Regions from separate parts of the Homo sapiens genome. Here region 2 is linked to region 1. A link means that fine-mapping ties the variant in region 1 to the expression of a gene that starts in the linked region. Tissue or cell type: whole blood. Region 1 holds a variant in brackets; the other region holds the start of a gene. All regions are shown on one strand. Distances are from middle to middle.

Evidence for each region. PIP is the estimated chance that this variant, and not a neighbour inherited with it, causes the effect.
Region 2: it holds the start of DSE, and the variant in region 1 is fine-mapped to the expression of DSE in whole blood (TOPMed, PIP above 0.99).

The regions. Positions count from the first base shown.
Region 1 is chr6:116,205,712-116,211,771 of GRCh38, forward strand. The region is part of intron 6 of NT5DC1 (5'-nucleotidase domain containing 1); the gene reads left to right. It also overlaps a transcript of COL10A1 not described here. Among named protein-coding and RNA genes, the nearest start is that of TSPYL4, 45 kb to the right of the region's middle. The variant G/A (reference allele first, on the strand shown) is at 3,134.
Region 2 is chr6:116,367,839-116,373,367 of GRCh38, forward strand. DSE (dermatan sulfate epimerase) reads left to right here and starts at 3,109. Exons shown (of 6, transcript NM_013352.4): 1 at 3,109-3,283. LOC100287467 (a long non-coding RNA gene) reads right to left here and starts at 3,881. Exons shown (of 1, transcript NR_148944.1): 1 at 1-3,881. RefSeq lists enhancers at 1,916-1,965, 3,480-3,980 and silencers at 2,896-3,425, 3,188-3,482.

The sequences.
Region 1 (6,060 bases):
TTTTTCACTAATTGTATTTACATCTTTACAACAAGGCTGTAATATGTCTTAATAAAGGGGATAAAACAATAAGATTAGTAGATATGACAGTAAGGAATGTGTAATGAAAAAATCAAAGAGACCAAGATTTTCATTCCATCCTGCTGTTTTCCTCATTATGTCATGATGATAGGCAAGTCAGCCTCTCTAGGCCTCATTTTCATATCTGCACAATGAGATTAGGTTTTGTGGTCCCCAAGGTTCTAATAGCTACCCCAAGTTTCTCTGCTCAGTCCTTTGAGAATGATCTAATAGACCATTGGACCATCTAGCCCAGTGTTTTTTCCTGGAAGTAACAAAAAGTAGAACCACCCTGCCTCCTGCTCAGTAGGACTTTTAGGGTTTTTTCATAGCATATGTTTCAAAATATGTTTTGAAGGTAAGTAGCATTTTGATAAGGGAAATCTTGCATTTTGGGCCCATGCAGGGCAATTCCATGATGCAGTGTGGCCCATAGCATTTCGTGGTTAATCAACTGCCTGTACTTAGGCCAGAGGAACTTGTTAAAGTAAAAATAGCTCTAACACAAAATTTTTACTATGTGTAAAGCATTGTGCTAAATGTTTCACATATATCATTGCATATAATTCACACAATTACCTAATGGGGTGAGTGTTATAACTGTGATCATTTTATAGATAAGCCAACAGTCTCTCAATGACTAAAGCACTTACCCAAGGAAATTGCACAACTAAGACTTGACTCAAGACTGTCTGATTTGGGTCCATACCACCCAGGAACACTGGAGACCATATCCTGTAATATACTTTTATCTGTGTGTCTACTCTGGTACAGAACTTTGTGCTCTGAAGCTTTTCAGTAGAAATGGAATAGCAACTCTCCTTACATCAACAGCAACAGCTGTTTCTTAATGAAGTCACCTGCAAATTATGAATTTCTTTCTGCCATCCCTCCTACCCTGCTCCATAATGATTTAATTTGCTGGCATGAGACATTTAGATAAAGTTCCTTTTGATGTTTTAAATGGATTTTATATCTGGAGGGCAAAACATTTTCTTTGCCATAGTTTTTAGATAAACTGTTAATTGGTCGAAGTCTAGTGCAGTTTCCTCTTTACTCACATTTTTCTTCATTGAATACACATAGGGCATTTAGTGTTTATTGCTAACATTTGCCAAATAATTGTGTGCAAAATATTTGTCTCATTTAAATTGGATTTTAAATGTTTTCTTCTTGTTTATTGAGTAATTCTAGAATTTAAAGTTCTCTGGATTTATATTGACATCTTTCCTTTTAAAAATAAATAGTCTGATCACTTATGTCATATGCTTTCTTAACAAACTTTTTCCTAGGTCAAAAGAATGTAATTTTTTATTAGAAAATAGTTTCATTATTACAATATTGTTTTATTCAGATCCTCTGGGAGCTGATATCTCTGCATTAATAACTATACCTATTCCCTGCCTACAGCAGATTTCTTCCACTTTATTCTGAAAGATTGAAGGTATGCACTCAATAAATGGATCATATGTCTTAAGAAATCATGGGAAAAAATATTTCTGTACCTGCATTTCCTTTTAAGATCAATAGAGTCTATAGCTATAGAAGTAAATGTTTTCTTTTTTATGGTGGACTTAATGTATTCTAAAGAGAGAAAGCAAAAAAAATCCTTTACAATCTTTAATTAGATAGATGATAGATACATATGTCCATATTATATAGGTAAAGACTAAGTTTATAACCTTATTTTTCAGATTTTTTTTCATGCTTACCGGGTAAAGAGTTACTTAATTTTTGGTTTAAAAAGTCTTTCATCTTTATGTTTGAAAAGTATATATGATTGTATTTTATTATGATTATATGTTAATTCTAAAAAATACCCAAAATATATAAACTTGTTGCATTAGATTGGAAGCAGGCAGTGTGAAAAAGGCAAAAATAAGACCAAAGAAGAAAAAAGAGGAATTTAGATGGTTAAAAGCCCTGCTTAGAGTAGAATATTCTGGGAACCCAGCCATTACTCAACTGTGAACCCCTCGTGCCCAGGTTCCCACTGTATTTCTACCTGAGTCTCTGCCCACTCCTTGCAGAGGCTATAAAGAGCCGCCCCAGGCTTTCTTTACTCTGTGCCTCATTACTGATCATTATGGAATGAGGACTGGGTTCCCATCACAGATTATTTTTGTTATTTATATTGATTTGGGAGCTGAGTTTAGCATAGTGTATACATACTGAAATGTTGTCTCGGCATTCTGTTAGGCTACCTACTACAGAAGAAAAACCAGGTTAGAAGAAACACAGTGAAAGTTCTATTCCAGGTCTTTCGTTTGTTAAATAATTGAGCACTTCAGTCCTCAGTGTGGGGCAGATTTCCTTAAGACATTGATAGTTAATGACCCCTAATATCTAGCTTATGATTTCTATGTTCCTGTTATTTTTTCTGATCTCTTTGTGCCTCAAAGCTAGAGAAGTCAACTGTAACTTTTTTCAAAGGAATAAGCATTGCCACATTTCTGAGTCTGCTTTGCCCGGAGGCATCCCATTTTAGTTCTCCTAATTTTTTCCAGCTTCTCTCTTCTGAAGGAGGTGGAAGATTTCAAGTAAGGATAATGTCAGTGGGCTGACTTCTGTTGAAAACAAAACCCTCCCAAAATGTTTTATGCTTCACAAATACATTTTAAAACCGTTTGAAATGAAAGCTACAGTGTATCTCTTTGAAGCTAGCCCCTAAAACCTGTCCCAGGTTTTACCTGGAGGCATCTTTGTTTTGCTGTACCAAGGAAAACATTCCTATTTCTTGCACAGTTAATTTGTAAGGCTGTACTTAGGCAATAGTGCCTTTATTCGTTCATCTCAAGCTACAAGCTCTTTAGTTCTTTCTGATCATGTCATCATGTCATCATGTGCATTTTTGGGATCTTTCAACTTCCTTTGACATTCATGAGGAAAAATATTACCAGTGGTGGCTTTCAGCCCTAGGCTTGTAGTGTCTTTCTGTGACCCTGCGATTGCTCTTTTAACAAGCAGACCAAGTGAGCCTGAAAACATCTTATTCAGAGACTAAAAATAAAGTGTGCTAAAATCATAAAAGCAATAGCAAAGGCACATATAGATAGGTTTTAAAGAGATGGCA[G/A]AGTAAAGAGACCCATCATCTGGCTCATAGAATATACTAATAGAGAACCCAGGCCAGAGAGTAATTGAAGGGCAGTTACATCATGGCTGGGGATCCACTGTGATTAAAAGATACATAAAGGTATTTATGTTGTCTTTCATTAGTTTGATCACAAATCATTTTGTAATATTCACTCTGCTCAGAGACTGCATAGGCTTTAAACAAAGTCTCTTAAATTGATGATTTTATTATTCTTTTGGTACTTTCTAGTAATAGTGCATTATATATAACTAATTGTATTTTTATTACGTTACTGTCCCGTAGTTATTAAATACTACATATCAGGATTCAGCAAACCTTTTCTTAAAGGGCCAGATAGTAAATATTATAGGCTTTGGGCACCAAGAGACAAAATCAAGGCTATTATATTGATACTTACATTACCATTTTAAGATGTAAGCACCTTTCTTAGCTTGTGGGCTGTGGTTTGCCAACCTCTGGTCTTTATGGTCACCTGGTAAGTCTTGCCTGGTAGCTTTTTCCCACACACACTTACTTCTGTAGTTAGGAATCCTCTGGTACTTGCCTGATATTAGGAGTATAAACATGAATGTTAAGATGGTTCTTTTCTTAAAAGATCTCAGAGTCTCAGAAGAAAGAAAAATACATAAATATGCTTATTACAAGTGTTGATTATAGTGTAACATGATGAATGCCATCATTGATGTGCAGAGTGGGTATTGGGGAGGGCTCCTCATAGAAGGTAACCTTGTGACAAGCTTCCAAGGTTCACCAGGCAGCAGAGGGAAGGCAGAGTATTCCAGGAAGGGAGATAATATTTATGCCTTAATTTTAGACGTTTATTTGGGGTTTTTTTTCCTATCTCAGTGGAAGGTCTGAGTTTCCAGATAATAGCAGAGACAATATCAGTTCAGTGACAAAGAACTTCTGCAGAAATCCTGAGGAAAAGCAGAATTGAATTTTATAATTATTATCCAATAATTATATAGCTAAACAGGCATACCATTTAAAGCATTTGATTTCTGCTTCTGAACGCAAGTTATTTTTCTTTAACAGATAATGGTCATCAAATAAGTTAAATCTCAAACATATAGATTTAGACACATAAATGATGAGGTTTAGTGGATTAGGATTCTTGAGGACTCTATTCCATACCCAAGTTTGTTACTAACCGTAATTTTGAGCAAAATATGTGGTGGCTACTTAATCATCTTTAATATGACAAGGTTGAAGGGTGTGATTTCTAAGGCTCCTTTTAATTCTAGATATAATTAGAATGCATATTGATGGATACTTTTTTCCTCTGCAGAAATCTAATTTGGTGTTTCAATTTTCCTTTATGGCTTTTGAGTTCAGTGCCATGCTTAAAAGACTTTCCACATTGCAAGATTTTAAATAAATTTATATGTAAGGTTCAAAAAGAAGCTAATTTGATTTGTCAAAATTTATCCAAATTCTGAACTCTCACTTATTAAAATTCTGAACAACCTCAAACCCCTGAAATGTAATAATGTACCATGTGAAAAAAAAAAAGAGTAAAGATTTGTGGTGACCCTGTAGTTACCATAGAGTCCCCAAATGCCTTGTAACTGGGCAGTATTGCACAAGCTCCGAAAGCAGACCGCCTGCATTCAAATTCCGATTCTGCCACATGGTAGCTGTGTGACTTTGGGCAAGTTCCTTAGCCTCTCTGTATCTCGGATTTTCAGTTGCAAAACGGGAATCATATAGGACCTGTTCCTGGGGTCATTATGAGGATTAAATCCATTAATAGTTATAAAGGTCTTGGAACTGTGTTTGGCAAAAATAAGCACTCAGATTATGTCAGTTATTATGAGGATAATTATTATAAATAATCTATTTTAAAAGTGATATTAAGTTAAAACCATGGAAATGTTTTAAAATAAATGTTAATGCCATAGGAAATTCCTCAGATACAATGCTGAACAGAAACACAGGTAAAAAAAACTATATATGGTATGCTTAAAATTCCCACAGAGTTAGATATGAACAGAAAATATACTGGCAGGAATCACATAGAAGTATTAGTATGTTTGGCAGCTAGTCTACAAAGATAGCTCTCTAATGAATCATGCCTCCCAGAAGTCACACCTTTCTGTTTTCTTCTCCTTGAAAATGAGCTGGACCTCTATCATCAGTAAAATTCAGCAGAAGTGCTACTGTAAAATTCCTAAAACTAGGTCATAAGGAGCCTTGCAGCTTTTGCTTGTCTTAAAACACTTGCTCTGGGGGAAACCCACCGCCACTTAAGAAGTCCAACTACTGTGAGACCCAAATGCAGAGAGAAAGCTCAAGCTAGCTAAGTGGAGAGATGTTTGTTTCACCAGCTCTCACCGTTCCAGCCAGCCCAGCCCAGGTGCCAGACAGTGAGTGAAGAAACCCTTAGATGATTCCATACCCCCGGGCACAACTCCAAGTGAGAAATGCCTGGCTGAGTTCAGTCAACCCTCAGAATCAGGAGATGATAATACATTGTTATTTTAAGCCATCATGTTTGAGGTGGTTTGTTGTGCAGCAATAAAAAACCCAATACAATGAATTTTCTCTAGCAAAAGTGTATCATATATAAGAAAAGCAATAATTTAATCTCTTTAAATAGTTCTTTTTTCCATATAGGTTCAACAGTAAGAGTTGACTGTATTTTATGTATGTTTTTATATTGTATATTTGGTTATTCTTAATTAACCTACAAATTAATTTAACTAGAACAGCCATTCATTAGCCATGCCAAATAAGTATAAATGTATTGGACTTAGAATAATTTACATGTAAAAAATATAGAGTCCACGAAGTATATTTATTCCTGGACAAACTGTGTACAAATTCTGTACTACCTATTACAGAGAATTTCCTTTTTCTAAGACATTTTTATAAGATTTTTCTCGACTATAACAAAGGGAGGGATA
Region 2 (5,529 bases), 160 kb after region 1:
CAGCTAGAATCAGCAGAGGGAGATGAACACTAAAAAACTGGAGGTGGACAGATGGAGTTCCAGTTTTTGCCTTAGTCTGAAACCGAGGCAAGAAACTTTTCACAGATACTGAACAAAATGAATAAACCTATTATTAAAATGACATCTGGATACTTAGAAAAGGAAGACACAATTTTGTAGACATGAACCACAATTCACTAAGTAGTCATTTCCTTTGTTTTTTGACAATATTACAGTAGAGCAAAGACATCCAATAGACAAAGCTCATCTGCTGTCTGTTTGGAGCTGCATCTAGGCGTAAGGGGTCACTTTTTCCTAATCCTTCAGCTAAGGTGAGAGTGGGGATACCTTTTTCTAATTCTTACAAAAGTGCCACGTACCCATGTACACAGGCTGCTACCCTGGGACAACAGACAAAAATAGGACAAGGTAACATGTGGGTCCTCAACTGATAAGAATGTTCATCAGTAGCATTCAAATCCAGTGTCGGTTGGCAGAGGAAGGTACCTGAGAATGAGAACTTAAATGATGGCATGGCATACAGACCGGATTTACAGAGGTCATGAAATTGAGAGGTGGAATTACTCAGTTATATCAATGATACCCAATATGTCAACAAGCTAAGAGGCCTAATTTAACACAATAAAATTCAGTAGAATCACAGGTAAAGTGCTGAACACTGCATTGAGTGTAGTTGTTTAGTTCAGTGATTCTCCAACTAAACTTTTAACACTTTAAGGTTTTATTTGGTAGATTGTAATATGGAGTCAGCTGGGTAATATTGCTGCCATGGAAGCTCCAAGGATATACTTAGGGAAATACAGTAATTACAACAAAGCCATTAAACATCTTTCTAGTTTGTCACTTGGGTGAAACCTTGAATTCAATTCTTGGCATCAGGGTTTGAGAGAGATGTTGGCAAAGTAAATCTCCTCCTGAGAGCTTTCCTAATGGATGAAGAAAAGCTGATGGAGTTAATATGTACCCAGGTAAATTGAAGTATTCTCCTGTGGAATCAAGGCTAGGTGTATCCTGTAGATTCCAGAGAGCAGAATAGCAGATCTGTTGAGACTTACTGTAATGGGGTGGGCGGGGGCGGGGGGACGGGGGGGGCTTTGCACAAAGTGAATGTCATCCAGAGGCCAATTCGCAGGTCACTCAAAAGCAAAATTGTGGGGGGTGTGAGGGTAAAGGGGAGCAAATGACAGTCAGTACTACCTCCTTTGAAGAATTCTCAATCCTGGTTGTACATTGTGATCATCTAGGAAGAGATTTTAAAATGCAGATGCTGATGCTTAGACCCTAACCTCAGAGATTCTGATTTGTTGTTCTTGCGTGGGGGTCCCCATTGGAAAGAATTTATTATAGCTCCCCTGCTGATTCTAAAGTTCTAGGTTGGAGAATCACTGAACTAGACTACTACTTGCTGAGAGGTTACGTAAATTAAACCAGATGTTTTTTCTAAAGTCTCTTTCAAATTTGAGAAGATAAATGGAAATTAACACTTACGGATTACATAATACAGCTAGACACTTTCACAATTTATTCTAATAATTGAATTAGTATATGTAAATCTCTTAGCACAGTGACCGTCTGATATGGTGTAGTAAACTCTCAATAAACATTAGCTATTTTTATTATATCCTCTCCATAACTGTTCAAACAAGGTATTATATTGTTACACTATAGATGAGGAAACTGAGGTTCTGATGTTAGTTTTCCAAGGCCCACAGTAGTAAAAGCAAAGTTTGGATTTGAACCAAAGATTAGTTCCAGTTTCCAGAGCCCTCTTCTCTCCTCGACAGGCCTTCCCTAAAGCATCAAGAAGTTTATGCAAATTAGTGGTTCACCTGAGTGAACATTTAAAAAATTTAATAGTACCACTTCCTCTTGACCTGTTTGTAAGGAGTTCCTCTTAAATGCAATTTCTGAAAAAGAGAAGCATAAACTGAGACATCCACATTTTTTCCTTATTTGGCCAAATAGAAGTGAGAACCTCTGAGGATAGAGGAATTGGATGGAGGTGCCCTTCAGAACTCATGGAGAAAAGCACTGCTCCCAGTAAAATATCTCTCATTCTAATGAATGGGTAAGTATCCTACAAATCTTTCACTTCTGTACAATCTAGGTCTGGTAGGTTACTTGCACACACTGGGTGGAGGTGGAAGGGGCAAAGTATTCCTGAGGTGATGGCCCTGATCCTACCTCACATCTCCTTGGGGCCTGGTTGGACCTGGCTGAGCGTGTTTGAGCAGTGGCTGATTTTTGGAAAACAGGAGGACTCTTCTCCAGGAGGCTGTGACTACCAAGGTTGCAAATGCTCCACCTGAACTTGGGTGCATGAGGGATCTCTCTCTCTCACACACACACACCCCCCCACCGCGTAAGATAAATTTCTGTTTGTGAGCTGCCTACATTAAATGCTTTGCTCCTGACCTTCTGTGATTAAAATCTGTTCCGTTTGCAGGGTTCGGTGCGCTTGGATTTAGTGTATTTTGTTGGTACAGTAAAAAAGAGAACTGCTTCTCTATAGGTGACCCCCGCCCCAAAGTCCCCCCTCCCACTAACTTCTCTTTGAGAAGAGAGTAAAACCGAATTCGAGAGAAAAGAGGCAGTAACTATTCGGGAGGAGGCAGACTGGAGTGGGCACCAGTCCCGGTAGTAAGAGTCTTAACGTCTTCCTCGCTTTCCTCTCGCAGAGTAGTATGGAAGCATCAGCTCCTCCCCCTGGGCCTCCAAAAGTTACCTTTCCTTTGGGTGTGATTCTCGAACCCGAAGCGTTTGAGTCCTAAGAAACTAGAACAAGTTAGAGCCAAAGAGGCCTGGCGGGCGGGGGTGCGGGTGGAGTCCGGGCCGGGTGGCGTGGAAGGCCGAGCACAGCTGCGAGCGGCGAGTCCCGGGAGAGGAGGAGCGGGAGAAAGCGGGGCGGGCCTGCGGTCGGGGTTCGGCCGGGGGAGGGGGTCCCCGTTTCCCTCTCCTCATCCTCGTCTCCTCTGGCTCTGGTGACGTTGCGGTTTCCTCCCCCCTCCAGCGGAGCCTCAGCGCCCGCCGCGTCCCTCCCTCCGCCCCTTTCGCCCACACCTACCCGCCCCCGCCGGCCCGGCTCTCAGTAGCGTCGCCCGAGGCTGCAGCAGCGCATCCCGGGGCATGGCGCGGCGGGGGCGCGGAGGGCTCGGTTCGGAGGGGGCCGGGAGCCCGGGCGCCCTGGAGTGAGGAGGACCGGGAGCTGGCTCTGGAGGCTGCGGAGGCGACGCCGGAGAGAACGAAGCCTCGGCTGGGAGCGGTAAGTGGAGGGGCGCGCAAGGGACGAGCTGGGGCGCGCGGCGCAACTTTCTTCGGGAGTTTCGGGCGGGTAGCCTTCGGGGCTGTCCCGGCGCGGGCGGGAGACGGAGAGCCACGTCCCCGGCTGAGAGCGGAGCGCCGCGGGTTGCGCGCCCGGGCCCGGCTCGGCTGGACTCCGAGAGAGCGCCTGACGCGTGAAGCCTGAGCCACGGGCTTCCCCGGCGGCGGAGCAGCCTCGAGGGGCAGCTTTTCGATCCTCCCCACCCCCTTGAACGCCGAGCACCGAGCCGGGAACACGATGAGAACCTGGAGATCGCATTCCGTGCGTCGGATCTGGCCGGCCCAGCCGCGATTTCCTCGACGGTCCTTGGGGCCTCGGCTTCACTCTGCGGGGTTGGGTGGCACACCCTCGCGTCCTCCTTTCCCTCCGTACCCCAGCCATTTGGGGGCAGGGGAGGTGGCGGCGGCTTGTGTGCAGATCCTGGCGCTGGCAACCCTACTTTGCGGCTGCAGAAGCCGAGGAAGAGCTCCCCAAGCCTCTCCCAGACGCTGGATTCCAGCGCTCCTGGGCTCCGCCGGCACTCGGAGAAATTGTTAGTAAACCTCATCCCCGAGGCAGTCCCGGGGAGGGGAGGAGGCGGGGGCTTGACTCACAGACTGGGAAGCTCTGAAAGCGATGCCACATGGGCTCAAGATCTGTCGGGGCTGGAATCTGAGCTAAGTTTGTGACCTGAGAACTTTTTCGTTTATATCGCTCCTTTAAAGCAGCAGCCTCCTCTTAAGCCGGCTGGCATTCAGATGGAAACCGAAGCCTTTGGTTAAAATCAGGAGGTGAACCTCACTTACCTGAAATTCTTTAGGTCAGGCAATGACGCTTTTAGTTCTAGGAATCTTCGTGTAATAAAGTTCTTTTTAAAAATTTTTTCGTTGGTCATGGTTTAGAAAGTCATGGTTTAGCACTGTTAATTAAATGCATGAAAGATCTCACTTATACATATTTTTAGTATTTTTCACATTATAGAATTTAAACTTTAAGTAATTCCCTCAAGTTTTTAAAAAATTTCTCGGCCGGACGCAGTGGCTCACGCCTGTAATCCCAGTACTTTGGGAGGCCGAGGCAGGCGGATCACGAGGTCAGGAGATCGAGACCATCCTGGCTAACACGGTGAAACCCCGTCTCTACTAAAAATACAAAAAATTAGCCGGGCGTGGTGGCGGGCGCCTGTAGTCCCAGCTACTCGGGAGGCTGAGGCAGGAGAATGGCGTGAACCCAGGAGGCGGAGCTTGCAGTGAGCCGAGATTGCGCCACTGCTCTCCAGCCTGGGCGACAGGCTCAAAACAAAACAAAACAAAATTCTCAATGATAATCTCTATGTGAAATAGTGATAAACAATATTGTATAGAGTATTCTAACTATATTACTAAATGGGATCACAAAAAACCTAATGTGCATGGAAGAAAATAAAATATAGGATTATCTGAGTATTTGTTTCATGCAAATACTTAGATTTCTGTATTGTGACCTCTTCCTTTGACGGTCACGATACAGATATAAGTTCTTTTCTGAAGTATGTAGGTAAGGTCTGTTCTAGTAAAAATGGAGAAGATAACAGATTGAATTTGATGTCTCCATCACCTAGTGACCCGTCTGTGTGGGTTCAGCAAAAAGTGCAAGATAGTGCTGGTTACCTAGGTTACATACACAGGTATATGAGATCAGCCTTAGCTCTCTTGGAGCTGCTAATGTAGAACCTGAGAAACATCAATAAGCAGCACTTCCTAAGTTTGAGCTTGGGAAGAGTTATTTTTCATTGACTAGTATATGACGTCAGTATCCGTTTTTATGAAGTTTTAGTTAAATAAAAACACTGGCCTAAAAAGTACATTCTGACAGTTTAAAAAATACTGAAAGTACAGTCACCAAGTGAAGGGGAATTAAAAAAAAAAAAAAGGGCTGGGTGCGGTGGCTCACGCCTGTAATCCCAGCACTTTGGTAGGCCGAGGCAGGTGGATCACCAGGTCAAGAGTTCGAGACCAGCCTGGCCAATATGGTGAAACCCGGTCTCTACTAAAAATACAAAACAAAAAATAAATTAGCTGGGCGTGGTGTCGCGCGCCTGTAGTCCCAGCTACTTGGGAGGCTGCGGCAGAAGAATCTTTTGAACCCAGGAAGCGGAGGTTGCAGTGAGCCGAGATTGTGCCACTGCACTCCAGCCTGAGCGACAGAAGAAGACTCCATCTGAAAAG